Regions from separate parts of the Homo sapiens genome. Here region 2 is linked to region 1. The links come from fine-mapping of genetic effects on gene expression. A gene starts in region 1. The other region holds a variant in brackets. All regions are shown on one strand. Distances are from middle to middle. Region 1 holds the start of FASTKD5 (FAST kinase domains 5). Region 2 overlaps UBOX5 (U-box domain containing 5).

Region 1 (3,012 bases):
TAGACCTGCATAACTGCCAAAGGCCTCACTTTTTAAGTTATGTTATGCAGCACAGAGTCTTCAGATTTTATTTACTTATTTATTTATTTATTTATTCATTTATTTGAGACGGACTCTCGCTCTCTCGCCCAGGCTGGAGTGCAGTGGCGCGATCTCGGCTCACTGCACACTCCGCCTCCCGGGGTTCACGCCACGCTCCTGCCTCAGCCTCCAGAGTAGCTGGGACTACAGGCGCCCGCCACCACGCCCAGCTATTTTTTTGTATTTTTAGTAGAGACGGGGTTTCACCATATTAGCCAAGATGGTCTCGATCTCCTGACCTCGTGATCCGCCCGCCTTGACCTCCCAAAGTGCTGGGATTACAGGCGTGAGCCACTGTGTCCGGCCCAGATTTTATTTTAGTCTACCAGGTAGTAGCAAACTATCCAAGGACTTGCCCAGGACCATTCAGGTCAGTGAGCTACAGAATCTAGTTCTGGAAAGGCAGCCATTCTTACTATTCACAAAGTGTAGAAAACGTGAATTCAGATTCCAGCAGCAACAAATGACTGGAGCACAAAACGCCAGCCACAGTTGGTGCTAACGCAGCTGGCTATCAGCTCCACAGGATGAAGCACTGTCCAAGGGTCTGATCAGTGAAGCATCACCCAAGACTGATGAACACAGCTGATATGAGGGGACCCAAAGTTCCCTGAGTCAAGACAGAAGAGCTGTGTCACGGTTTGCACAGAAAGAGAAAGAGCAACTATTCTTACCCACGGAAAGAAAAAGGGAGAAGGCCATCAATACTACCCTTAGGCTTGTGCAACGAGAAACTGCTAAAAATGGGGGGAAGGTATATATCCTATCATACTGATGTTTACCGAAGACTCCGCATCCCAAATGCTAAGCAACATACTGTAGGGCCTTGCTACTCAGTGTGTGGTCTGCGTGCCAGAGGCTTCAGCCTCGTCTGGAATCTAGTTAGGAACACAGTTATCTCAGAACCCACCCCAGTCCTACAGAATCAGAATCTCTAAGCGATTCGCAGGCACATCAAAGTGTGATGAGAGGCGCGGCAGAATATCTGACTACATTCTCTTAACAGCACCGTGAGACAAGTACTGTTACGATCTCCATTTCACAGAGGAAAAAAAATCAAGGGTCAGATAAGCCCCCTGCCAAAGATCACAAACTCAGGAGCGGCGAGAGTCACTGAAGTTCTCACCACAGCCAGGCCTGCGAGAGGCACTGGCAACCCAGGCCAAGAGCTGAACAAGGCCTCGATGCGCTCCAGCTCTGGGCCGGCCGGGAGGACAGGAGGCACAGGCCAAGGCCCAGGACGGTCGTGAACGCGGAAAGAGGCCGCCGCGACCTCCTCCCCGGCCGCCGCCACTCACCTGATCCTCCCGAAGGTGGGCGCCGCAACACCAAACCGGGGACGCCGCGGGCGGCGGCGACACAGATACTGGCTCCTCCGGCGACTCCGAGCCTCACAGCCCCACTTCCGGCCAACTGCCCGCTACTTCCGCCTGCTGCGCGAGTGACGGATGCGGCCGAGGCTCAAAAGACTCTGTCAGCGTTTCCCAAGGACATTTTCCACTGGAGGACGTTGTTGAGGAGGCAGGGGGAGTCTAGGACCTGCAGAGGGAAAACACCTTCCTGGATGGATCGCTCTGGAAGTCATTAAGCAGCTTAGTCCCGGCGCGGTGGCTCACGCCTGTAATCCCAGTACTTTGGGAGGCCAAGGCGGGCGGATCACCTGAGTTCAGGAGTTCGAGACCAGCCTGGCTAACGTGGTGAAACCCCCGTCTCTACTAAAAATACAAAAATTAGCCGGGCGTGGTGGCGCACGCCTATAATCCAGCTATTCAGGAAGCGGAAGCAGGAGAGTCGCTTGAACCCGGGAGGCGGAGGTTGCAGTGAGCCGATATCTCGCCACTGTACTCCAGTCTGGGCACCCCTGTACTCCAGCTCTGGGACACAGAGCGAGACTCCATCTAAAAAAAAAAAAAAAAAAAAAAAAGTAAGTAGCTTAGACACATGTTCAAATCTGAGGACCACCACTCAGGGTTTTATGGCCTTGGAGAAGTCACATAAATTCATTCTTGTTATATTATTATTATTATTTTCATAGAGACGGGGATGGCAGTGTCTTCCTATGTTGCCCAGGCTAGTCTCGAACTCCTGGGCTCATGCAATACTGCCGCCTCAGCCTCCGAAAGTACTGGGATTACAGGTATGAGCCATCGCACCCGGCCCACATAAATTCTCTAAGCCTGTACAGTGAGAAAAACAATACATTTTTTTTTTTTTTGAGACAAAGTCTTGCCCCATTGCCCAGGCTGGGGTGCAATGGTGCAATCATGGCTCACTGCAGCCTCAACCTCCTGGGTTCAAGTGATCCTCCTGCCTCAGCCTCCTGAGTAGCTAAGACCACAGGCATGCACCACCACACCTGTCTAATTTTAACAATGCATTGGTCGGGTGTGGTGGCTCACACCTGTAATCCCCGGTGTTGGAGACCGGCCTGGCCAACATGGTGAAACCTCGTCTCTACTAAAAATACAAAAAAAAATTAGCGGGGCATGGTGGCGTGCACCTGTAACCCCAGCTACTTGGGAGGCTAAGGCAGGAGAATCACTTGAACGCAGGAGGTAGAGGTTGCAGTGAGCCGAGATTGCACCACTGCACTCCAGCCGGGGCAACAGTGAGACTCCATCTTTTTTTTTTTTTAATGCATTTATAATAGAGATGTATCTGTAAAGTGCTCTCAGGAAAAGAGCTAGTGACATGATGGATAGATGAGCCTGCTGAGAGAAATGGATGTGGAGCTGGGGCTTAGCGAGGCCAGAGCTATGGAGCATGAGCCAGGGTGATTCTCCACCACCCTAAGAAGGAGGGCTGGGTCCTACTGGGTACATATATTGACACAGCTGTCAGTATAGGTACCTAGACAAGAAAGAGACTCTACTAAACCTCTACCTATCAGAAAGTCCTGGCCCCAGGCTGCCATTCCTGAGGGCACTTGAG
Region 2 (2,500 bases), 46 kb before region 1:
GATCTCAGAGGCCCAGAGCCCCAGGGGCAGTTTCAGTGACAGAAAAAAAAAAAAAAAAATCATCAAGGAAAAGACAATTATTGTGCCCTGGGCAGGATGGAAACCCAAGTATATAACTGCAAACTGAGGTGACAGAGAGGATAAAAAAGAGGGCTTGCTTTGAAAAGGGTGGGCTAACATGGCCTCCTGTAGGAAGAGCTGTGAGAATAAAAAGGGGCCAGCCACACAGAATGAAAGGAGAGCAAGCACAAAGAACAGCCTATCCGTTAAAGAAAAAGACACAGTGGTCGGGCACGGTGGCTCACACCTGTAATCCCAGTGTAATCCCAGCACTCTGGGAGGCCGAGGTGGGTGGATCACCTGAGGTCAGGAGTTCGAGACCAGCCTGACCAACATAGCGAAACCCCGTTTCTAACTAAAAATACAAAAATTAGCCGGGCGTGGTGGCGGGCGCCTGTAGCCCCAGCTACTCAGAAGGCTGAGACAGGAGGATTGCTTGAACCAGGGAGAAAGAGGTTGCAGTGAGCCAGGATTGTGCCACTGCACTCCAGCCTGGGCGACAGAGCGAGACTCCATCTCAAAAAGAAAAGAAAAAGACACAGTGAAGCTGGGTGCAGAGGCTCACACCTGTAATCCCAGCACTTTGGGAAGCTGAGGCAGGTAGATCACCTGAGGTCAGGAGTTCGAGACCAGCCTGGCCAACATGGCGAAACGCTGTCTCTACTAAATATACAAAAAAAAAAAAAAAAAATTAGCTGGGCTTGGTGGCGTTTGCCTGTAATCCCAGCTACTAGTGGGGGCTGAGACAGGAAGATTGCTTGAACCCAGGAAGTGGAGGTTGCAGTGAGCCGAGATTGCGCCATTGTACTCTAGCCCGGGCAACAGAGCGAAACAGAGCAAGACTCTGTCTCAAAAAAAAAAAAAAAAAAAAGACACAGTGAGAGTGGGCTTCAGATAAGACTGCAGAGGAGGAGACATGGGGGCTCCAGCAGGCAGGACCTCAGAGGGAGTAGGAGTTGAGGTTTTATCCTAAGTTCAGGGGATGCCATGGTAGGATTTGAAGAAGTGGAGCATGGTGATGGGCTGACATGATAAAAAGATCCAACTGCTATGAGTATGATGAGCCACAGTAAGGCGAGGAT[G/T]GGGGGATACCAGCAGGGGCTACTGCAGGAGTCTGGGAGTGAGGCAGTGGGAGCTGCAGCCAGGGGAGGGGCCACAGAAGGAGAGCAGGGGACTAACCTGAGGTCACCTTGGGGGAGGATGGACAGGACCTGATAATGAACAGAATGTCAGGATGGGGACACTGAAGGAACTCGAGAATGACTTCTGTGTTAGAAGCCTCACCACAAGACAGAAGATGCTGCCCTTACCCAGGTAGGATGATGGGGGCAGTGAGGGGGAAAAGCTCTGGAGGGCAGATGTGAGCAGTACAGAGTCTGAATGTTTCCTTTAGAGAGGATGCTGAGCCTGGCCATGATGGCTCATGCCTGTATTCCCAGCACTTTGGGAGGCCGAGGCAGATGGATCACCTGAGGTCAGGAGTTCAAAACCAGCCTGGCCAACATGGTGAAACCCCATCTCTACTAAAAATACAAAAATTAGCTGGGCGTGGTGGCGGGTGCCTGTAATCCCAGCTACTTGGGAGGCTGAGGCAGGAGAATCACTTGAACCTAGGAGGCGGAAGTTGCAGTGAGCTGAAATCGCGCCATCGCACTCCAGCTAGGGCAACAGGGGCAAGACTCCATCTTAAAAAAAGAAAAAAGAGAGAGGATGTTGAGTGCTGTCAGGGCGGCAGGATGAGTTCCAAGGAGAAGCAGGAGCTACAGGGGAACATGGACAGTTGCCGGAGATGTGAGTTTTCACTTGGGTAACAGAGAATATTGAGATTAGAGAGTCCAGGGCCAGAGCTGGTAGAGAAGGCAATTGGCAATGGAAACTGAAGAGGGACCACCGAAGATAGGAGAAAAGAAGCAAAACAGCCTAAAAGCCAAGAGAGAAGGCGTTTCGCACAGCAGGAGCTCCATCTCGTAAAAAATGCCTCCCGTTGCAATCAGTTTCTGTTGCTTTGTATCCTAATAGATTCTGGCATACAATGGGGGTCAAGGTTCATTTTAGGCAAAATTGGCCCATAAGCTGCCACTGCTCTTTCTAAGACACTGACGGAAGTGTTAATCTGAAGGGATGAGGACGACAAACCCAACCAAACCTCTCTTCACATTTACATAAAGTGCCCCGGATGTCAGACTGCAGACTGGCTAGATGAGAAAAAAATAACAAAAAAGGCCAGGCGCGGTGGCTCACTCCTGTAATCTCAGCGCTTTGCGAGGCCGAGGCGGGCGGATCACGAGGTCGGGAGTTCGAGACCAGCCTGGCAACATGGTGAAACCCCGTCTCTACTAAAAATACAAAAAATTAGCCGGGCATGGTGGCGGGCGCCTGTAATCCCAGCTACTCAGGAGGCTGAGGCAGGAGAATAGCTTGAATCCAGGAGGCGGAGGTT

Evidence for each region.
Region 2: its variant is fine-mapped to the expression of FASTKD5 in whole blood (INTERVAL, PIP above 0.99).

What each region holds. Positions count from the first base shown.
Region 1 is chr20:3,158,387-3,161,398 of GRCh38, forward strand. It overlaps FASTKD5 (FAST kinase domains 5), which reads right to left and starts at 1,479. Exons shown (of 2, transcript NM_021826.5): 1 at 1,380-1,479. UBOX5 (U-box domain containing 5) reads right to left here and starts at 1,479. Exons shown (of 5, transcript NM_014948.4): 1 at 1,380-1,479.
Region 2 is chr20:3,112,387-3,114,886 of GRCh38, forward strand. All of the region lies in intron 4 of UBOX5 (U-box domain containing 5), which reads right to left. All of the region lies in intron 5 of UBOX5-AS1 (UBOX5 antisense RNA 1), which reads left to right. Among named protein-coding and RNA genes, the nearest start is that of UBOX5-AS1, 6.7 kb to the left of the region's middle. The variant G/T (reference allele first, on the strand shown) is at 1,143.